Regions from separate parts of the Homo sapiens genome. Here region 2 is linked to region 1. Evidence: fine-mapped expression QTL. A gene starts in region 1. The other region holds a variant in brackets. All regions are shown on one strand. Distances are between the middles of the regions.

Region 1 (11,583 bases):
CAGAGCCCCACAGTCATCTTGGGATCTCCCAGCATCACCTGATGAGCAAGGACTGGCTGGGGAGGGGTCCCCAGAAGCACCCAGGCATCCTGGTCCTCTGGGATCCTCAGCCCCAAGTCCCTAGGGCAAGTTGGGGCGTGTGCCTGTCCTCACCTCTGGCAGCAGGAGTGCCAGGGCTTGCAGGCGGCAGCATGGGAACCTGCTGCTGCTCGGATCCCAGGCTAGCCCACACGGACTGCTGAGCCAGAGAGCCCGATGAAGACATGGGTTGAAGAAACCCATCCGAGTGGAACGATGGCAGCACCCTGACATGCCCCACCACTGCCACATTTCCTGATCCCAGCTGTGTGGGTGCAGAGGAAGTGGACCTGGGGACAATACCCAGGCCTGAAACGGGCACCCAGCTTTGGGGGAGAGTGAGGCGGTTAGAGGTCAGGAGTCAGTGTGGTCAGGCAAGAGTGGGAGGCTGGGTGGACAAGTGTCCCCCACCTGGTCAGGGGGTCCTCCCCCATCATCTCCGTATAAAAGACTGAGGAGGGGCAGGCAGTGGCTGAGACAGTCCTAGATGCTCCCACCTCACCTCACACCCCTCCATCTGGGCACGAGGCTGGGCTGGATGCAAGGCTGTGGCTGGGGCGGGGCAGGGACCACAGCAGAGCTATTTTTGCTTATGTTGCTGCAGCTGCCGCAGCAAGAATCAATCATTGATGCTGTGGGCATCCCTGCCTGCAGAGGGTGGAGGCAAGCAGCGCCAGTCAGGCCATGGGGGCAGGGCAGCGGCTCTGCTGATGATCAGGGCCTGGGGAGCCTCGGCTCCTCACCCAGGCCCCGGCACCCAGCCTCAGGAAGGCTGTGGGCAACCAGTGGGCTGGGCCAGTGTCCCCATCTCAGTGGTCCAGGGAAGAGGTGGAGGCTGTGTGCACAGGAGAGAGCATGCGATGCCCTCTCCCTGGGGTGACACCTACAGCAGGTGTGGGGCCTTGTATGTGCCAGGGGCGGCTGTGAGTTGGGCTTGTGTCCAGCGATGCTGTGGGTGGGGGCATGAATTCCTGAGCCCAGGCATGCTTCTGTGGTCCTCCCTAGCTGGGCATCTGTCCTCAGAGGGGCACATGGGGAGGAAACTGGAGCTGGGCGTGACGACAGGAGCGCAGGCTTCAGCTGGCGGGCAGGGCCCGGGATGGGGGCTGGCAGCCCCTCTCATCTTCTCCCCTGCTCCCACAGCTGTGACCCTGGACCCCTGTTTCAGCTGCTGAGGCCCTGGTGGGCGGGAGGAGGGATTCTGGCTGGCCCCTGGGGAGCCAGTCCTCAACTGCACATAGCCGCAGCCTGCCTGTTTGTGGGGGTACACTGCCCAAGTTGCAGGCCCTCCCAGAGGCATCTGGAGTGAGATAGAGCTCTCAGGACCCCAGGTTCCTTGAGGTGGGGAAGCTCTCTGGACAGACACCCCAAGGTGTCTTACTCATGACACTGTCAGCTTAACCCTCAAGCTAGGAGAAGACCCCCAGAAGGAGGGTGGGAGGGGCAGTCCCCAGCTCCCCGACAGTCACAACCAGACTGTGGCCCCAGCACTCAGGGCAGCGCAGAGCCAGAGGCCACTGCAGAGAGACACCAGCCCTCTGTCTCAGAGTGGGCAGGAGAAGGGAGGGACGGCCTCCGGGTGGAGCAGGCCCTGCCCAGACCCCATCCTGAATTCTGGGGCCACAGGGGAGCATGGCGCAGCTGCGTGTGTGTGTCTGTGCCCACCTTGGAAGTGGGCAGCCCCGTGCAGGGCAGAGGCAAAGTTCCTGGACCTGGGCAGCTGTGGTTGGTTCTGGGACCATTTCTTAGCCAGGGGAGGACAGGCCCAGTGGACACAGCTAGGGGAAGATCTCAGCCACCCCAGGCTGAGGGGCAGGACCAGGGCAAAGTCCTCCCAAGTGTGGGGTCCCCACACTCCCGTGACGCCACGCTGAACTTGCGCTCTCACTCGGCCCCCACCAAGATGGCCTGGAGGGTTCTCTCATCTTGCTGAAGGAAAACAGAGGCAGGGGCAGCAGGTAGTAGCCCAGGGACAGGGACATGTCGGGGGCAACCTCGGCTTCCCCACCCAGGGCTCCATCCTCACCCATCCCGCAAAGCCAAGGGGAGTCCCCGTAGCCCTGCGCAGATCACGCCAGACAATCAGGAGAGGGGCCACTTCATTTGGATGGGGACCCAGGAGGCCACATGACTTTGTCAAGGGCACACACCTAAAGGGGCTGAGGACACAAAGGTGGGTGAGTGCCCTGAGCGGCCCCTCGTTCCCAGGCCCTGCAGCCAGACTCAGACACAGAGGACTAGCGGGCGAAACCCCAGCAGACCAGGCAGAGGCATAGACACATCCAGGGACACACACAGAGGTGTATGCACCCAGGCACCCTAGTGGCTCTCTCCCTGTGTCCAGGGAGTGACTGACTCCAGGTGACCAGAGCAGGGTGGGCTCCTGGGGAGGGAGGTAAGTGCAGGGCCTCTGGACCCCAGGCAACACTGCTCAGCCCCGAAAAAAGGACACTGCGAGGGGGTGGGGTAAGACCTGCGCCAGGTCCCCACACGAGGGAGAAGGTTGTGCCCATCATGCCTGGGCTCACTGGCAGGAGGCTGCCAGGGCCTCTTCCCAGCAGTGGCTCTGGCGTCCATCTGACCTGCTGCTGGATGGCTGCCCGGTGGCTGCAGCGCGGCTAACGGGAACTGTCTAGGGTGAGTCATCGTGCCCGGGTGGCTCACCTGGGCCCGCTAGCTGTGCGTGGTCTCCAAATGAGCCCAGGAATGCGTGTGCCCCTGTGTGTATGTATACACGTGCATGGGTCTGTATCCTGGTGTGGGTGTTCATGCATGCAGGCCTGAGTGTATCAAATATCTCAGGTGGCCTGTGTCTGTGTCTTGGTGAGTTTGTGATCTTATCTATGAGTGTGTGTGTCTGCCTGGCCCTTCCGGTACAGCCTGGCCTCTTCCCACCCCAGGAAAAGGTGTCCGTGTGTGTGTGTGTGTGTGTGTGTGTATGACAGAGCATGTGTGTTTGTGTCTCTATGTGTATGTGTCTGTGTGTCTCTGTGTGTGTGTCTGTGTGTGTGTGAGTGTGCCTCTATGTGTACCTGTGTATCTCTGTGTCTGTGTCTCTGTCCATGTGTGTCTGTGTGTCTCTGTGTGTGTCTGTGTGTGCCTCTGTGTGTGTGTCTGTATGTGTACCTGTGTATCTGTGTGTCTGTGTCTCTGTCCGTGTGTGTCTGTGTGTCTCTGTGTCTTTATCTCTGTATGTATGTATGTGTGTGTGTATCCGTATGTGTGTCCGTGTGTGTGTGTGTCCCTGCATCTGACCCACACCCCTGGACATTGCCAGGCAGCTCCTCATGGAGGTGGCGGTCCTCTCCTGGGTCTCTTCCAGCCCTGCCTTCCCCGACAATCCCTGCAGAACTCCACTCCTTCTGGGGTATGCCCGGTTTGGGTCTACACCAGGCCAGGCGTCACCAAACTCTTAGAACTCCCTTGGGCCCCTGCCCTCCCTGTCCACACCCCCAGGTGTGCTGCCTCTGTGTGGTGCCCAAGCTAGATCCCAGGGAGGCTCCCACCCTCTGCACTCTGATCCTCACCAAGTCCCCTCTGCCTGCATATCCTTTCACTCCCTCCCATACCATGGCCGTGGTTCCACTGCTCCTGTTTCCAGCTGTGCCCCATGCCAACACCCCTAGCCACCTGCGCAGTCTTTCCTCAGCTCTCACCACGCTCAGAGACCCTGCTTGGAGCCTTAAGTGGCACCTCCTACCGACAGGAGCCCCCTCAGCCTCCTTGCTGCCCTGCCCCCGCCCACTGGGCCTGACTTTCAACCCCAGCCCTTTTGCCCCCATTCTCTGCACACACGCTACTCTGTCCCCTCTCTCCAGAACGCTTCCTACACTGCCTGGCACATGTCTCACCCCTAAGGTCCCAGCTTACACTGCCAGGAGCCCTCCAGGACCTCCGTTCCCCCGCCCCCAGGGCAGTGCCGCCCTGCAGAACGCCTCATCCTTACAGGCTTGCTTGTGTCTACGCCAGACCTGGAGCCCCTGGGGCAGGGCCAGTGGGGTGCTGGTTGCCGCTGTGTCCTAGGCCCTAGGCTCTTGACAAGAATCAGCAGAAAGGATGACTCTGGGCGGGGTTCTGGCTCCAGGACTGCCCCCAGCGCTGGGCGCTCCCGCACGCGGCGCCCACCCCGCAGCCCTGCCCGGGGCGCCCTGTTCCCGCTGCACGCTCTCAGCCGCGTCCTCGTATCTGCCACCCACCAGCCCCTGCAGAATTCTATCTTGTCCTTATGCTGCCAGATCACCTCCTGCGGTGCCCGCGACCCCTGTTGTCCCCGCAGGCTGCCCCCCACCCCAGCTTCTGACTAAAGTGTCTGTCTCCCCCGGAATGGGAGGTGAAGACAGCGGCAAGTCCAGGAGCCTCGGTGCGGGGATCCAGAGGTCGCTCCCTGGCGGGAGTCCAAAGTTAATTCTGCGGACGCGACAGGCGGGCCGGGGGCGCGGGGTGGGGCGGGGCCTGGCTGGGAGGGGCGGGGCCGCGGCGACGGCAGCCAATGGGCTGAATGAGGCCGACGGCACCGCCCGCGAGCGCGCTCCGCAGTGGCCCGGCAGGGCTGGGCGGAGCCGGGCGGGGTCCTAGCTGAGCGGCTGGGTAGCCTGGCGCGCGGTGTCCGCAGTCCGAGGTCGGCCGCCCGCGGCAGCGCAGGGCAGCGGGGCAGAGCGCGGCTCCCGCCCGCCCGCCCCGTGCGCCGGAGCCGGGACCAGCGACTGGACGCGACGGGCCGCCAGGCCCGCACCGCCTGGCCGCCGCGATGTGCGACTGCTTCCACATGGTGCTGCCCACCTGGCCCGGAACCCCCGGCAGCGGTGCGCCCCTCCCCGCCTGCAGCCCGCTCCCCTGGGGCGGGTGGGCTACGCGCGAGGGCGCGCGCCGGGGCGTGTCCAGGGGCGCGCAGTGCGGGCCTTGGGGGCGGGGGACTCGGAGACGCCTGCGGGACTCGCGCGTGGTTCTGGGCCTTCCCGGCCGCTGGAGTCTCTTCTCCCATGCCTCGCGTTCTACCTGTCCGTGGCTGTAGGTTCCTGCTCCTCTCCCGGCCTCTGAGACTGTCTCTGTCGCTCACTTTGTTTCTCGGTGGCTGACTCGTCTCTGTCGCTCACTCCCTCTGTCACTCGCGGTCCCTGTCTGTCTCTCCTTCTCGCTCCTGCCCCGCTCCTGGGACGCTGTCTGGTCGAGAGGCGGCCTCCTGGGAGGTGCTACCGCACTCTGGAGCAGGGCTGGTGTCTGCAAGGGGCGTGAAAGCCGGGGCCGCCGGGACCCGGGGCACCTGCACCAGGCTTGCCCTCTCACCTGCTTTGCGGGAGAGCAGCCAGGCTGGTCCAGGAGTCTGGGCTCTCCACTTTGGTCCGGGGCTTCCAGGCAGGGCTGGGCTGCGTCTACTGTGTGGCTGTGTGGTGGGGTCGCTGGCTAGGTGGAGGCTGTGGCAGGGCTAGGCCTGAGGTCTGGGGCCTGGTGAGGGGCCTGAATGGGGTCAAAGTCAGGCCACAGGGTCCCGCAGTGCTGGGCAAGGGAAAGTGGGTGCTACCTACTGGCATGCCCCCAGGGATGGTCAGTAGCCTCCCTCTGAGCCGCAGGCTACGGCATGTGTACCTGCTGCTCTTTGTGTGTCTGTCCCTGCACTGGGCCTGGTTCCGGGGCCTGGGTGTCTCAGCATCTTGGAGGGCAGGGCTGAGGGGGGCAGGGCAGTCCCTTGGGCGCTGGGTCTATGCTGCTGCAGCTGACCACACCCAGGGCATTGGCAGCCACTGGCCAGGGGGTTGGGCTGGCCGGCACTGGTGCAGGCTGGACCCCACTCCTTGGGGAAAACAGGTCAATGCTAATGGTGCCGACAATGCTGCAGGTGAGAGGGGTGCCCCTGGCCTGGGCATGCCCCCCAGCTGCAGCAGGCACTACCAAGGCCCCTCCTGTGGCCTGTCTGTCTGGTGCGCACTTAGGGTGGGAGGCTTGTCTGGGGGGCTCCAGAGCAGGGAGGCCCCTACAGCACCTGCTTCACGGTGTCGCAGATGGGAGCCCAAGGTGTTTGGGCACAGCAGCGGGAGGATGATGGCTCCGGTGGGCTGGAGGCCCCTGGCCCCCTCCTCTTTCACTATGACTGGCCCTGCCCACATGGCTGCAGGTCGACCTCCTCAGAGGGAGAAGGGCAGGGCCCCCAGGCATGGGACCACTACCCTGCCCCCAGCTTCCCTGCACAGCCTTTCTGCTCTGCTTCCTCCTCACTCACGGGCACCCAGAGACTCCCAAGCTGCAGGGTCCAGGACCATCTCATCCACCCCCTGCCTCCACAGAGGCTTGTGCTGGCTTCATGGTTCCCAGCCCGTCTGGGGCAGTCCCTCCCTGTGTCCAGCCTACGGAACCATCCGCTCTTAGGGAATAAGGTCAGTGGCTCTCGCTGGAGCTTTGGTAGGAGACTTGCAAGATCAGAGACCTTGGGAGTTCTGTCCAGCACACCGGTTCCCAGACCCTCCCCAACCCTGCGGCCCAGGAACGTGCATTCCTGACAAGCACCCTGCCAACTACTGCCTTTCCCAGCCTGGATTTGGTCCAGGCCTTTTCCACCTGCAGTTTCCTCTCAGCAGGCTGGAGATGGGCGGACTCTCCCCTGCTCTCGTCTTCCTGTCCAGTCCAAACCTGCCCTCTGCCCGACACACCAGGCACCAGCCCAGCAGGGAGCCATCTCCTGGGCGGCTTTTGTGCCGAGGCTGCCCCCTGGTGGCCATGCTGGGACCACCCCACGCAGCGCTGCCGACTGTAACACCAGCCAGTTCACTCCCAGTGGGCTCTGGGTGTCACACTCTTGCCTACTCCAGGGGCAGGTTGCCTCTTTCCCAGGGGCAGAGCTGGGCCCCTGATAACTGGGGAGACAGGGAACCCCTCCCCGGCCCCGGCCCCCACCCTGCACCTGCTGCCCCGGTGTGGCCTGAGCACCTCCCACGACCCCCCAAGAAAGCACCACCGTGTTGGGAAGGCCCCAGGTGGTGATACCATGCGAAGATGTGTGGGTGGTCTCTTCTCTGCGGTGGGGGTCATGAGATGGCTGGGCCCTTTCCCAAGAAGGGTGCAAAGCAAGGCAGCTGTGGAGGTGGTCTCGCTGTTCTGTGCCTCGCTGGTGCCCTCTTCAGGGCCTCAGGCTGCAAATGTGGGTCAGGACCTCACATTCGGGGTCAGGAGTGATTGCAGCTGCCTGTGCTGCTAGCTCCACGCAGCCAGGGATGCCGAGTGACAGCGCGGGCGGGTCTGTCACCACCCTGGTGTCTCCCTGACTGGGTCATCTACACTGGGGGAGGGCTGTATTCCCATTCTGCAGACAAGGACACTGAGGCTGGGGACAGTGACGCAGTGACTCCCTGGGCTCTTAGGGGCCAGAGCAGAATGTCGCACGCTTTGGTCGGTGACATGCTGTTCTGACAGGTGCTGGCTCTGCCCTGCCCCACCAGGCAGGGTGACCGCAGGCAAAGGAGCCCCTCTGTAGCCGCTAGTGGCAGGAATGGGCCTTGAGGAGGAGGCAGCAGAGGGCATCCTGGAGTGCCCTCCAGTGAGGTGGCCTCTCAGAAGCCACCGACAGTGATGCTGTAAGTGTGTTCCTAACAACCCCAGCTCTTTCCCTGGTGGGGAAACAGAAGCTGGACCACCAGGGAGGGAGGCTGGGCTGCCTGCTGGCCTCTGGCTCCTGCCCCAAGCCTCAGGCAGTGCCCACCTGGTGCAGCTCAGGGAAGGGGGTGAGGCTCAGAAGTGGACAGGAGGGTCAAGCCCGCAGAGCCTCCAGTTCCAATGCCCCAGGAGCCCGCTCCCTCCCGGCCTTCTCCATGCCCAGGAAGCTGAGTGCCCACTCCCATCCGGGCTCGTCGTGGCTGGGCCTACAACAGGAATGCCCTCATTGCCTTCTCTCCATTTGGCCAAGCTCTTCTGTCCTGGGCTGGGCTAGGAGCTGCCTCTTCTGGGAAGTCCCCTGGGTTGCTGGGCCCACTCCCAGCTCTCCCTTAGACTCTGGCCCGCTCTGTGTCCTTCCTCTTGTGACACCTATGCGGAAGGCCTCTGTGTTTCAGGCTCAGCTAGGGGCTGGCTTGGCCAGGTGTGGAGAAGTATAGGTGCTGGGGAGGAAAGGCCCCCAAGCCCCAGCAAGTGGGGGGCACTGGCCATCTGGGGGTCCCTGCCACCCACTTCAGGAGTAAAATGCCACACTCTCCCAGCTTGGTCTTCCGGCTGGCAGAGACGGACCCTGCGCTCAGGGATGGTGTGAGTTGTGGGGGTGCTTCCCCGTCTGTCTGGCGGCCTGTTCACCCATCCTTCTGGGTCTCAAAGCCACCCCGGGAACCCTGGGACCTGGGAGGTCATAGCTCAGCAGAGGAAGGATCCACCCATTGTTCAGTCAACAAATGTGAATCCCATTTTTGTGGCCAGTGCAGCCTTAGGGGGCACAGAAGGGCCAGAGAGGGCTCCCTGGAGGACAACTGGCCCAATGGAGACCGGGACTGGTCATGAAAAAGAAGCGGAGGCAAAGCAGCAGGAGCCTGCAGAGGCTGAGGGCGAAGTCAGGGACCTGCAAGTTGTTCAACCCAGTGCATCTGGGACGGGGTGGGGTGAGGATGGAGAGGTGGCAGCGTCAGCTGCTGGAGGGAGGGCTTTGTCCTGAGGGCACCGGGGAGCCCCATAGGTCTTAGGGCAGTTTTGGTGGGAAGGAAGCTGCTCCGTGGGGGATGTGGAGGCCAGGTTAGCTAAGGGAGCTTAGCGGAGGCTTAACTGGACACACAAGGAGGACGGGGCATGCTCCTCTGCTCCCCTCCACCCGCTCTAAGGGTGACGGGATCCCCAGCCACGCTGCGAGCTTGAGGGTGTCTCCACCAGGCCCCACCTGCACTCAGCCTGGGCCTCCAGATTTCCCTTTATTTTTCTTTTTTTGGAAGTCATCGGCTGGCCGGGAGTCAAGGCCTTCCTTGCTCGGATAAATATTTAATAGTCAGAAGCACTTTCTAAAATGGAAACATGGAGCTGAGCCCAGGAGGCAGGGGATGGGGAGGGGCTGGGGCGGGAGGCGGTACTCCCCCATCCCCGCACCCCACAGAGGCCAGGCAGAGGTTTTTGCAGCCACCGCCCTCCCCTCCCCTCCGGCTGCGGGTCCCTGCCCTGCCAGCTCTGCTGCGCACTCGGACCTGCTGACCCAATGTGTGCTTGTGAGGGTGGGAGTGGCATCGGGGCCTCCTCTCTGCAGAGCTCTTGGGAGGGACTCCTTCCTGCAGGGGTGGCGGTGGTGGGAGGCTAGGCAATTGCCCAGGCTGTTCCAGGCAGGAGTCCGGAAAGGGATCTCAAGCCACACCCCTGCCTGGACGCTGCTGAGGGTATAGCCAAGCAGGGGCAGCTGGGGGTACCCGGGATGTGGCAGGGGCAGGACACTTGGGGGACCCTTACTGGGCTATGTCCGTGTGAGCCCTGCCGGCTGGAGGGGCTGTCAGGTGATGGCGCCTGGGTGGGCAGGAGGCCCCATGACTCACCCCCACCAGGTGGAATTAAGGCCCCTTTGTTTAGGGCCACAGCCTTCGGTCCTCGCCCTGCTCCTGCTGCTTGGCAGGCCTGGCTCCTGGGTGAGCCAGCACCGCGGGCTCCTTGGTGACACACGCCCTGAGAATGCCGAGCTTCACGCCTTGGCCTCCTCCCGGCTGATTCACCATCCGCTGCCCTCAGCCCTCCCTGGCCCCCGCCAGCAGCCGAGTTCCCATGGCGACTCCTAGCTGGTCCTGGGTCCTAGCAGCTCTGAGCCAGGACTAGCTGTTCAGTGCGCATCACGGGACATGCCGGATGGCCTAGGTCTCAGGGTCTGTGATGTGGTGGCTTAGCAGAGCCCCTGCTTGCCGTCCCTCCAGCTGATCAGACACCTGCCTGACCACTGAGTCCCACCACGTGGTGCCAGGGGTCCGGTAGGTGGGGCCCCCGGGAACTGAGGCAGGTGAGCAAGGCCCTGCCCAGCACCCGCCTGCTGGTGGTCAAGTGTGCCTCTCTTGGGACTGGGTAGCAACAGGGGCAGGTGTGAAGCATGGCTCTCCAGCTCTTACCCTTCCCAGTAAGTGGCCCCCTGAGCCAGAGCCCAGGGCCTCCAGCCTGACCCCATCCCTTGCTGTGTGTCTGCACCGTGCTGTGGGCACCCACCGCCAGGGGCTCTGGAGCCGAGGGCTCGGTTCTGAGTGCCTGGCGGGGGAGCAAGTCCAGGATCTGAGCTGGGAGGGTGCCCCAGGCAGAGCCAGTGGCACGTGCTTAGAGTCTGGAGAGGGCCTGGGGCAGGGTGTGGTGCGTTCCCATGGCTGTCCGCGTTGGGGAGGGTGCACCAGGAGGAGATCTCCGTCATGTGTTCCAGGGCTTGGCGGACCACACTGGCCGCACTGCAGCGAGGGTCTGGGAAGGGCTTGCGTGGCCAGCGCTGTGGCCAGCTGTGCAGGGCACCTCCCTCTGGCTGCTGTGAGGTGGGCGTAGCTGGGGTGGGGGCCCCAGCAAAGGCTCTTGCGGGGGTCAGTGCTGTGTCTGGCATGACGGCCCCGCTCTGTGCCAGCGTCTCCTTCCTGTCCCACTCCAGCAGGCTGGGCCTCTGGGTACGGCGCTGACTCAGCCAGCCCTGCCCTGCCTGGCTGAGTGTGGGTGTCAGGTGGTAAACAGTAAACAGCGTTCCCAGGTGAGAGCTGTCTGGGAGTGTCCCTGGAGCAGACGTGGCCAGCTTTCCTGCCTCCGTGTAAATAGAGTCGTTTTCTATCTTTGTGACCGTTAGGTTTTTGTGTCAGCCTTTTTAGGGTATTGCAATGGGGGGAGGCCCAGAAGGGGCCTGGAATCAGGTCCCCACCTTTCAGGCCTGAGGAGCCCCTGAGGCCTCTCCCACCCCATTTGCCGGCAAGTGCCCCTGCCCTGGGGCTGGGACAGAGCCTTCCCTGCCCTTGAAGTCCTCTGGCCTACTTGAGGACCCCTTCTCTGTGTGCCCACCTCAGGCCACCCTGGCATCCCGTGGCGGGGGCAGCCCTCTCAGCTGCACCTTCCCACCTCTTCCCATGCCGTTGGGGCCTGGTGCAGGTGCAAGCCGTTCCATCGCTGACCTCCCAGGCTGGGTCTGACCCCTCGCTGCCCCTAAGGCCTGGGCTGGGCCTCGGCTGTGTGGGCCTGCTCCAGACTGCCTGTTGGAGGCACGTCCACACCCAGGCTATGGGCACAGGGCTGGCACACTGGGATCCCAGGGGGGCTACACGTAGCACAGCTGGTTGAGTCCTGCTGGAGCCTCCTGGCTGCCCAGAGCAAAGAGGAGTGGGGGCTAAGGGCCCAGGGTGCAGCAGGGTGAGGTGACCAGGAGGTGGGCCAGGCAGCTGGAGCTCTGGATAGTGGGGGACTTGGGGTCATGGGACTCAGGTGTTTCTCAGCCACCACTTGTATTGAAATGACGGGGAAGGATGGGAGGCTTGTTAAAAAAAAAAGCTAGGCCAGTGCGGAGGCTCACACCTGTAATCCCAGCAGTTTGGGAGGCTGAGGCAGAAGGATCACTTGAGC
Region 2 (11,583 bases), 540 kb after region 1:
TGGGGGGGATGAGACACGTCCCTGGCTCCTCTCCCTGCCCCCACTGCCACTTTGACCCACTGTGGAGGCTGCTTAGCTCCATGAAGCTCTGGGATCAGCCTCATGCCCCAGAAGTGAGTGATCTTGAGCCCCAGCCCCGAGCCCAGGGTTCCCTGCTTTGGAGACTGGAATTCTCAGGCCTTTCTTCCTCAAACACGGACTTGCTGGAGCCACATGTGGGAGACTGGACAGGTCATCCTTGGCCTGGATCCCCACAGCGGTGCCCGAGCTGGATGGGAAGTACACACAGCACGTACACCATGCACCACACACCACACATCCAGCAGCAGACGCTGCTGCAGAGGGAAGCAGAGGGCTCGAGGAACAAGAGGGGAATAGGGGCATCAGCAGCGCCCCTCCAGGAGGTGCATTCGGCTGCAGCCTCGAGCAGGGCCAGGCTTGAAGGGGGTGGCACAGTGGAGTGTGGCGCGGAGTGAGGGAAGCCTGAGGCAGGGGGAGGCCTGCAGAGCCCTGCTGGGTGGGGAGGAGGAGGCTTCTGGAAGGACCAGATCTGCTCTGGAGGAGAGCAGCCTTCCAGCAGGTGAGGGGCAGGGGCTTCCAGACCAGCCTGAGCCTGCCCTGCTCTGCAGCTGCCACTGGGCCCCGGAAAGCAAGGGGCCTGCTGCCTGGGAAAGCCTCATTTGCAGGGAGGTGACCCTCAGGGTCCAGAGTGGGGAGGGCCGGAGTGGCTGGGCTGAGCTGTCCCCTGAGGACTCTCGTGGGGGACAGTGCTGGGGCGGCTGGCCTGGAATCAGGATCAGAACTCCTGGGTTCCCTGTAATGTGCTGAGACAGAGCTGCGGCCGGGCCTCTGACTCTGGGGTGGGTGGGGCCCTCTGGGGCACCCCCTCGTTAAAAGTTAGTGCTGAGGCAGAGTCTTAAGTCGGAGCAGGCAGGGCTCCCCTGCAGGCAGGCAAATCACAGCCTCAGCCCAGTGATTAGGCACCACCTCTGTGGAAGGGTCCCAGAGCTGCCTGTGATCCCTCACCCTGCAGTCTGAGTAATTCCTGAATGACAACCATCCACACTCCCTCACCCGTGCGGATACTGCCGGAAGAGCCCTTGCCAGGCCCCTACAGCTGGGTCTTCCCAAATCCACCTTCCACGGCTAGTTCCATCCTGTCCTGGGGTCAGTGGGGGAAGGGCAGGCCAGGCTCTCATCCCTCACCATGGCTGCTCCCCGTCATTCACTCATTTGCTCTTTCATTCCCTCATCCCACTGCTGTTTTCAGATGCTTCTGGAGCACAGAGCTGGCCATGTGGTTGGCTGGGAGCGGCAGATAAACCCATGCAAGTTTTATGGAGGAGAAAACAGAAGTTCTGAGAGATCACTTGCCCAAAGCCACATGGTTGGAAGGCTTGTGTTCATCCCTGCTCCCAAGACTCGCCTGACTCCACAGCATTCCATAGCCCTGGCCTGAAACTCTGGTCGCCTCGTGCCCGGTGTAAGGGTGGGGGCACTCCCAGGAGGGCTCGGAGGAGGCTTGGCTGGCCGTGTTCTGGGCCCTGCGTGATCCCAGGTTCTCCGACGGACCCCGGGGTGGCCGGGAGAAGCCGTATGTGCTGTGGACAGAGGTGTCTGCCCCCCAGCCCTGCCCAGGCCCAGGTCCTGCTCCTGTGCCTCGTGAGGGGGTGTTGCTGCCCAGTGCAGGCCTCACCTAGCAGTTCCTGGGCACTGGCTGAGGTCTGCTCCTGCTCCAAGTCCGGGGTCTCAGCCAGGCCCAGCCGGTGAGGGAGGCTGTGTGGCCTCGTGGGGTCGGGGCGGGTAGCTTCGAAGTGGTCAGCTGCTGCCTGCTGTGGCGGCTGGGGCTGGAGTCCTGCTCCTGGCTTTCCAGGATGCACAGGCTGGGCTTGGAGGAGCAAGAGGAGGCGGATGGAGGGCGGAAAGGAGCCCAGGGCCATGGCTCCCAACTCCTCTGAAAAGCCCGTGAGCTCGATAGCATCCACTTTGCATTTTATCAAATCGCCATTTCTCACAGAAGAATCTGTCAGCCACCAAAATTGCTGGCTGAAAGGAGCAGGAATGAAAAGATTCACCTTGAGGACATTCCTCTTTGTCAGGAGCAGAAAAGATTCCATTTGCCAGCCGGGAGAGGATTCCGGGTTCATTGATAGCAGCGTGCTGAGCTTCACGGGGAAGGGCTTCAGCAAATGGTCCTGCTTTTTCATGTGAAGCAAATTGTGGATAATGCGCCCTGCATTCTGTAATTACGAACATGAATAAAAGGGCCTTGGGCATTCACCGCGGAGTGGAAGCCTGTGTACCACCCAGGCATCCAGCAGACGGTGGGCCACGTGGTGTGGCCACTGCTGTCCTGCTGTCCTCCTGGCCTACCATCCTGCTGGCTGTTCCTCTCCAGCTGAGGCATCCTGGTGCCAGTGAGCCCTGAGCCCTCCGTCTCCAGCTGCTGCCCCATGCCCAGTGCCTGCCTGCTCAGCTCCCAACTCACCCGTGTCCTTCCTGTCTCTGCCCCAGCGAGGTTTGCTAAACCATGTCCATCCTCCAGCCCCTTGGAGCACCCTCCCCCAGGAAGCCTCCCTGACCCACCATCCACTGGGCTGTCTCCCATGCTGTCTGGAGCCTCACTTGTGCCCGTTGTCCAGGGCCTCCACCCCCGGCAGGGGTCCAGCTCCGTCTCCCTCTGTGCAGGCACCAGGTGACTCTGGGACTCAGCCCCTCCATCAATAAGGTGGACACCACCTTTGTGTTGCAGCTGGAAGGAAGGACAGGGCCCGGAATAGGGAATGGGCAGGGGTAGGGGAGCTAGGGACTCTGGCTCAGCCCCACCATGGATTTGTGGGTGTTGTGGGTGAATCTCTTCCAATCTCAATGCCTCAGTTTCCCCATCTGTCACTGAAGCCTTGTATAATCAGAAAGGGATGGGTTGGTGGTACAAATCCCAGAAAACACTACTCGAAACCCCACCATTCAGTTCCCACGTCTGTGGCATTAGTGTCCTAGGCTGCCGTACCCAGGTGTAGGCACACCTTGTTTTATTCCTCTTCACTTTATTGCACGTTGCAGATACTGTACTTTTTTTTTAACAAATTGAGGGTTTGTGGCAGCCCTGTGTTGAACAAGTCAATCAGAGCTGTTGTTCTAACAGCACGTTGCTCATGTCACATCTCTGTGTCACACTTTGGTAATTCTCACAACATCGCACGCTTTTGCATCATTACTGTATGTTATGGTGATCTGTGGTCAGTGATCTTCGATGTTACTAGTGTAACTGGGGAAACCATGAACCATGCCACATCTCTCACTTTAAATCAAAAGCTAGAAGTGATTCACCTCTGTGAGGAAGGCAGGTGGAGACCCCATGCAGGCCGAAAGCTGGGAGCTGGGCATCTGGTGCCGGTTGGCCAAGTTGTGAATGCCAAGGAAAAGTTCTATAAGGAAATTTTAAAAATTTTAAAAATGCTGATGTGGAGACAGCTCGAGTGGTCTGGATAGATCCAAGCAGCCATCACACTCCCCTTAAGCCAAAGCCTCACCCCCAGCGAGGCCCTGATTCTCAGTTCTGTGAAGGCTGACAGGGATGAGGAAGCTGCAGAAGAAAAGCTGGAAGCTGGCAGAGGTCGGTTCGTGAGGCTTAATGTGTGTCCCCAGAACATGAAAGTGCAGGGTGAAGCGGCAAGTGCTGACGGAGAAGCTGCAGCGAGTTATCCAGAAGATCCAGCTTGGATCATCGACGAAGGTGGCTACACTAAACAACAGATTTTCAACGTGGAAGACACAGCCTTCCATTGGAAGAAGATGCCATCTAGGACTTTCATAGCTAGAGAGGAGAAGTCGATGCCTGGCCTCAAAGCTTCAAAGGACAGGCTGCCTCTCTTGTTAGGAGTGAAGGCAGCTGGTGACTTTAAGTTGAAGCCAGTGCTGATTTACCATTCCTGAAATCCTAGGGCCCTTAAGAATTACGCAAAGTCGACTGTCTGTGTTCTGAAAATGGAACAACAAAGCCTGGATGACAGCACATCTGTTTACAGCACGATTGGCTGAATATTTTAAGCTCACCGTTGATACCTACTGCTCAGAAAAAAAAAAGGTTCCTTTCAAAATATGACTGCTCATTGACATGACCTGGTCACCCAAGAGCTCTGCTGGAGACTCGCAGGAGACGAACGTTGTTTTCATGGCTGCTCACACGACATCCATCAGGCCGCCCACGCATCAGGGAGTCATTTCAACTTTCAAGTCTTACTATTTAAGAAATACATGTTGTAAGGCTGTAACTGCCATAGACAGTGATTTCTCTGATGGATCTAGGCAAAGTCAATGGAAAATCTTCAGAAAGGATTCTCCATTCTAGAAGCCGTGAAGAATGGGAGGAGGTTGAGATATCAACATTGACAGGAATTTAGAAGAAATGGATTCCAACTCGCATGGATGACTTTGAGGGTTCAAGACTTCAGGGAAGCAGGAACTGCACATGTGGTGGAAATAGCAAGAGAACTAGAATTAGAAGTGGAGCCTGAGGATGTGACTGAATTGCTGCAGTCTCATGAAGAAACTCGAATGGATGAAGAGTTGCTTTTTACGGATGAGAAAAGAAAGTGAACACTGTTGAAATGACAACAAAGGATTTAGAATATTCCATCAAAACTTAGTTGATGGAGCAGTGGCAAGGATTGGGAAAATTGACTCCACTGCTGAAAGAAGAACTACTGTGGATAAAATGCTGTCAACAGAATCGCACGCTACAGCAAAATCTTTCAGGAAAGGAAAAGTCTATTGATGAGGCCAGCTTCACTGTTGTCCTAAGAAATTGCCACAGCCACCCCAGCCTTCAGCACCCACCACCTCCATCAGACAGCAGCCATCAACATGGAGGCAAGACCCTCACCAGCAAAAGATGATTCACTGAAGGCACAGATGGTCGTTAGCATTGTTTGGCAATGAAGTGTATTTTAATTAAGGTAAGTACATTGTTTTTTAGACGATGCTATTGCACACTGAATAGACTACAGTACAGTGAAAATGTCACTTTTATATGTACCGGGAAACCAAAAAATTCATGTGACTCACCGTATTGTAAAACTCACTTTATTGCAGTGGTCTGGAATGGAACCCACAATATCTCTGAGATTTGCCTGTACCAGATCGTGGGTGGCTTAAACAACAGAGATTTTTTCCCGCAATGTTTTGAAGGCAGAAAGTCCAGGATCCAGGCATTGACAGGGCTGGGTCCTTCCGGGGCTGTGAGGGAGAACTTGTTCCACAGCTCTTGCCTCGTTTCTGGAGGTTGCTGGCCGTCTCTGGGGTCCACGGCTTGTGGAAACATCACCCCGACCCTTGCTCTCACCCCCTCGGTGTTTGCCCTGTGCACGTGTTTGTATCCAAATTCCTTCTTTTTATAAGGACAACTGTCATGTCCGATGAGGGGCCTGCCCTGCTGCAGGGTGGCCTCATTTTTCTAATCACATCTGCAGTGACCCTATTTCTAAATAAGATCACGTTCTGTGTACTGGGGATTCGGGCTTCGACATCCAAACTCCACCTGTAGCATCTGGAGCTGGTGGCTTGGGCTGCTCAGCCTCTGTGCTGGCGTGTACCCCCGACACAGGCCACAGGGACACCTCCTCCCTGCAACCCCTTTGCCATGGGATGGCCCATGCCAGGGGGACGGCTACTTGACTTGGGGGACGCAAACAAGGTGGGGGCTGGTCTGAGGCCAGAGTCTGCATCTGGGTGCCCCACCAAGGCTGTGTTCACACCTCTGAGAGCTGACCCACAAACTCACCTGGGACCCGGGGGCCTGCAGCCCTCAGGACCTGCCCCTGCCCTCCCCTCCCCTCTTTCTTTCCTTTGCTTTGCTTTCTTAGAGGATACAGAATGGATGTGGCTGGTGGGACACTCACAAGGGGCTTTTAGACACTGCCTAGTAAAAGAGCTTGGCGCTTGAGG[G/C]GGCTTGGCCAAGTCTTCATCCCCCACCTGCGGGGCATCCAACTGCCCTGGATCCCCTGCGTCCCTTCACTGTGACCTTGGGCCTGGAGGGAGCAGACAGGCAGGCCTCACCTCCTGCGCTGTGTGCAAATTAAGTGCTGTGATGCCAGTGGAGCTGGCCCCCGGGGCTGGCCTGGGTGGTCAGGCCCCCCTTCCTTCCTCCTTCCCTGCCTCCCTCCCTCCTGCCCTTGGAAGAACAGCCTGGGCTCTCACCCACCAGGGAAGACTTCTTTCTGTCTCTCTCTTTCTCTCTGCTGTGGTCTGGGGGCTTCCAGGGGTGGTCTCCTCACTGTGTGCTTAGCGTCTCCTCCCTGCCCACTCCCAGGCACTTTCTGTTGTGTTCCCATGGGGTGGGGCGGGGTGAGGGCACGGATGTGGCATGTGGCCTTCCCAGTGAGCGCTGAATAATTAACAGCCAGGTAATGAAAGGCTCACTGGGTATTGATTGTGCCCTGGGGCCAGTGTGGGGAGGACTCATGTGTCCCAGCCCAGTGTCACCACCCACAGGCAGGCGGGAGGGCACCAGCTCAGAGGAACCTGAAGCCAGTGAAGGGCCCACAGCTGCCCACTGAGCAGCTGGCCAGGGCCCAGGAACTCCCCCTCTGCGATACCTGCCCCAGGAGTGCCCTGTCAGAGGGGAGAGGCCCAGGAGAGTGGGCGCTTACAGGAGATCCCCCTGCCTGACAGTCCTGGAAGGCTTCCAGGGCAGGTGGGGCTGGGCCTCCTGCAGCTGGGTGGGGCCGGCAGAGGTGGGCAGTGTGCTTTCAGGGCCCTGCAGCAGCTGGAGCCACCGCCTCATCCAGAGCCCCGCTGCTCAGAGCAGGGCTGCCTTCCCTCCATAATTAATTCATTGGGCCTCTGGCCCCTGTCTGGCTGCATCTCCACAAGGGAAGAAAGAGACCAGCCACCTCCCTCTCTGAGAGCAGCTTACACAGCAAGGCCCGTCAGGCTGAGCCACAACCTGGGACCCTCACCCTGCCCCCGTGCTGTGCTGGCCTGGCCCTTGGGTTCACCCACTGCTGGCTGCCTAACACCCTGTCCTCCAGGGGCTGGAGTCCAGCCCCTTTCTGGGAGCCCCCATTCCAGCCCCACAGGCAGTGTAGTAGCCAGTGCAGAGTCCGCACACGGCAGTCACCTGCCTCTCCCCTGGCCCTGGCTGGGTGACTCCCTGGGGTGTGGGGTGAGGACCATACGGCTCCTGTACCAGGGGCAGCCCCAAACTCCTTGCCTGGTGCTTCACCAGCCCCCAGCGTCTCCAGGTCTGATTGACTCATTATCTGCTCCATCGCCCTCCTTCCCACACCTAAGCTCTGACCCTGGGTAGGGGTCCAGCCTTGCCGTGTCTGAGGCCAGTGGAGACGGGCCTGGCACTGCCCAGCAGAGCACGCACGGCCATGCTGGAGCTCACCCCACAGGACGGAGAATGACACCAGCGCAGCTGCAGTAAGGACCAGGGGGTGCCCGGGAGGCTGGAGGCTAAGTAGGGCCCCTTGGTCCTGTGGTGGGAATGGGAACAGGGCCCTGGTGGGAGGGAAGTCCTGGGACAGAGCTTGGCCAGCCAGACACAGGCATGCAGTGGGAGGAGCTTGTGTCAGCAGTTCCTGGGGGAAGCTTACGGTCAGCCCCCGGCACGTCTCCTGGCATGGCCGCGGAGAAAACAGGCCACTGCGGGGAGGCAGCCGCCGGGCTAGGGGCTTGGCAGAGTGACCAGGCCCAGCTGTACACCCTTGCTGCCGTCCTGCTTCTCCATAACATCCTGTGTGGTTTCCTGCCCTGGCAGTCCTGGAGCCTTCACCCCGACTGCCCCAGGCCTGCCTCCCTCAGCTCCGCCCATCTGCAGGAGGCTCAGCTCCACCTCCCCCTGGAAGCCCGCCAGGACTACCGGGCCAGGCCAGAGGGCTTCCTGCGAGCGCCCACTCTCCTGGGCTTCCTCCCTCCTAGTGGGCGCTCCCCAGTGGACACGGATTCACTGTGCGTCCCTGGACACCTCTGGAATGTCAGCTGTCCCAGCGCATTGTCCCGATTTGTGGGATGGACTGCAGGGTTGTTGGGAGGAATAGAACAGGGCCCACCACAGCCTGGGACCATCTGCACCAGCTGGGATCATAGCTTGGGGCAGATTTTCCTAGTTCTGGCAAGACTTGCTTGAGCATAGAGAGGTCAAGGAGGCCGCATGTCTTGGGGGTAGAGTGCAAAGGGCAGGGGCTGACCCTTCCCAGTTAGCGGGGGTCCTGGGGAGGAGTAGATGCTGGGCCATCGTTCCGTGGAAACAGGACTTTAGGGGAGCCAGGGCCGTGGGCCTACCCTCCCTTCTCACTGCTGGTGACCAGGCTCGGCTTGAGGATGGGCGTGGACACGCTGGCTGCAAGGGCGCCATGTCTGGCGCCTACCTTGGGCCTGCTCTGCTCTCCTATGACTGCCAGTGGCCCCAGCACAGGTGATGGAGGGAGTGGGACAGGGTCCTTCCCCAGCACCTGCCCTCAGGGTGGCTGGACTGCCTGATGACAGCCTGTACTGACCCTGTGGTGCTGGCAACCCCACAGGAGCCCTAGGCCCTGGCCAGCCAGGCCTTCTTGGGGCACGACGGGGCCAGGGCTGGCTCCAGGGAGCCACTCGGCTGTGGGGCGTGGGCCTCATTTTAGGGTTTCTCCTCCTCCCACTCCAAGGCACTGTGCCCACTAGTCACCCCTTGCTGGGCCTCCGGGGGTCACAGTGAGGCTGGGCCAGGTCCCCTGCCTGGAGCCCACCTCCCTGAGCACCCCGACTGCCCCACAGGAACCATGGTGGGACTTGCTTGCTGGTAGCCATCAAGTCAGCCCTGCGAAGTCTGATGTTTGGAAATGCCGCTCACAGGCCACCTGCCTGCTCTTGGAGGCCCCGTTACCAGGAAGGCCTTTCCCATTCTGCAGGTCTGGGCATGTCGTGAGTGGGCCAGCACTCACACTGCCTCACAGTGAAGGGCACACAGCTGGGGACCCTGGAGTCCTCTGCTCCGGGAGGGGGTCCAAGCCCCTGAGACTCACCCTTTTCCGGGTAGTTCCTAGCCCTACAGCATGTTCCTGGCCAAGACTCCCACCTCCTGCCCTGCCCCTGGCCCTCCCTTGCACCCTGGGGGCCTCCTTACGTTGCTCCTGGGCATTGCCCTGGCAACCCCTGGTCTCCATCTTCCCTCAGTCCACCCCACACCTGCTGTCAGCATCAACTTCAAACACATTCCAGAGCCTACCCTTCTGCTCAAGGACCCGCCATGGCTCCCCATTGCTGTGGGGTCAGAATGCCTCTGTTCAGTCCCCAGCCCTCTGTTTGGTTCCAAATGAGTGCCTGTGTGGGACTGCTCAGCCCCTCCCTGCAAAGCCCATGGAACTTATACCTACCTTCTGGAGTCCTTGGTTGCTGGGATCAGGGCACCCCTGAGCAGGTGGTCCTGGGGATGGAATAGGGTTGGCTGGAGGCACCACAGCAGCTAACACGGCCGGGGCTCCAACCTCCCACCCGCCCCTTTCTGTTGTGTTGAAGGATGGGGGTTGGTGAGATCCGCCTGGCTCCAATCCAACCCCTGCCACTGGCCAGCAGCCCCTCCAAAGCAGGGGCCCCCCACACCAGTCCAGAGGGCCATCCATGCTGGTCCCCACCTGCTCCAAAGGTGTGGGGAGGCCGGTGGCGGGTGGCGACAAGCAGGGGCACAGGGCACTAAAGCCCTGACCTTACATTAGCAGCCGTGAGACTTCTGTCAGCATCCCAGGCCCCTCGGGGACAGTGTGGGGCAGGAAAGCTCAGGCTGGTAGACTCCAGGGGAAGGGATGAGCCCTGTGAACTCCCAGTAGCCCCAACCTCACTCCCCGAGGCCCAGGAAACTTTGTTTCAGAAATCAGGTTCTGGGCTGGGGACAGAAAGAATGCAGGACCCGGACCTCCTGAGGTCACTTTTACAGAGAAGACCCCTCCAGCTCCGGGGCGCCTGAGCCCGCTCTGTCTGCAGAGGGCAGCCACTCACTGCAGGCGCGGGCCCACGTGAGCCCTAGGCCGAGGCTCTGTGGCTGGTTCCCCCTCTGGAGGGCAGGAAGGACGGGGCCTGAGCTCAGGCGGGGTGGCCCTGCACAGGGTCCCTCTAGACACCCTCAGGCCTTGCCTGAAGCTCACCCTCCAGGGAGGTAGCAGGGGCCACCTCAGGTGCCACAGGTGCTCTTGACAGAGACTGTCACCCTGGTCTCTCCGTGATCCTCAAAGGCTGGGGCCACTTCTGTGACAGGCAGCCCAGGGTGTGGTGACCGTGCCTAGCCCACCGTGAGCATCCGGGAGCTGGGGACTGGCGGGCTCCAGGGTGGCTACCAGCTTGTGAAGGAGGGGTTGGGCTGAGACCTGGCCCACAGGACATCACCGAGGAAGAGATACCACTGAAAACAAAACCCGTTAGCCCCGTGGCTCTAAAGTGGACCAGGGAAGTCTCGGGGAACCCCGGCCGTGCTCCTCAGAGCAGCTGTGGGTGGAGGTCACCTCGGAGCGGAGCAGGCACAGGGTGCCCCCATGGCTGGCCCGACTGGCTGGAGGGGCTCCAGGAGCCCTGTGGATGCCGTGATTGGAGGGGGCGGGCGCTGCCCTCTCTAGAGGGGCCGGGGTGGCAGGGACACTTTGCCACCACAGCAAACTCAGTTTCTGACCATCTGTCCTCAGCAACTCCACAAGATGGAGGAGGTGCTTCTGGTCCCAGTTGTGATTCCTTCTGTGTGGGCTAAGAGCTCCTTCTGCAAGCTCCAAGTCCAGGCTTTGCTCCAAACTGGGCACCGCTGCTGTGCCCCACCTTCCTGAAGGCCTCCTCACGGGTGTGGGCAGGTGGGCCAGGCTCGGGGCCCTCAAACAACGGGGCCGGGGCAACCACGGAAACCGAAGCATCAGCGCCTGTCCACAGTGCGGGGCCCGTCTGGAGTAGCCGGCTCCCTGCCACCCCCGTGGGAAGGGCACCCGGGGCCTGCCAGTGCAGAGCCACCCTGAAGACGACTGCTGCTGTGGACAAGCTCAGGGAGCCGCCAGGTGCTGCTGGGAGGGCTGGGACAGCCAGGTGCGCCTCGGGCCGCAGCTTGCAGATTAGGGGAGGTGAGGTGAGGGGGATGAGGAGGTGTGGGTGGTGCTTGAGCACCAGCCTCAGAGATACCCTCCCGGCGGCCACATCCTAGGCTGGGAAAGGGGTCTGTGCAGCGTTGTTTGCGTCCGTGTGTTCCACGGGCTCCGGCCCCTTCAGGATCGGCCTCCCCACTGCTGGGCCAGGAGCCGGTTGGGCATCTCCAAGGATGTCCCCAGGGCTGACCCTTGGTGCTTCATAGACTCCGAGGCTCCTTGGTTGTGTCCCCAGCTCTGGGTCTCTCTGGTCCCTGGTCCCAGACCCTGGTGGAACCCAGGGTGGTGACCCTGGCCAGAGCCCTGGTGGGCTGGCTGCTGTGGGTCCCAGGCAGGCCCTGGTCTCCACCAGCCCTGCCACAGAGTGCAGGTAAAATGGGGACCGTAGGTATGGGGAGGCCCAGCCAGCCTGGCCAGATGCAGAGGGCCAGGCAAGTGGTTGCTCTCGGTGGCATGGGGACCCATTTCTCTTCGCTCCTTTCGGGCT

The links.
Region 2: its variant is fine-mapped to the expression of AHNAK2 in sigmoid colon (GTEx, PIP 0.96).

Annotation. Positions count from the first base shown.
Region 1 is chr14:104,971,480-104,983,062 of GRCh38, reverse strand. It overlaps AHNAK2 (AHNAK nucleoprotein 2), which reads left to right and starts at 4,689. Exons shown (of 7, transcript NM_138420.4): 1 at 4,689-4,880. The coding sequence starts at 4,826. RefSeq lists silencers at 4,546-4,705, 6,812-7,031 and an enhancer at 7,232-7,311.
Region 2 is chr14:104,432,425-104,444,007 of GRCh38, reverse strand. No RefSeq gene overlaps it. Among named protein-coding and RNA genes, the nearest start is that of C14orf180, 140 kb to the left of the region's middle. RefSeq lists enhancers at 2,197-2,979, 8,155-9,020, 11,205-11,583. The variant G/C (reference allele first, on the strand shown) is at 5,947.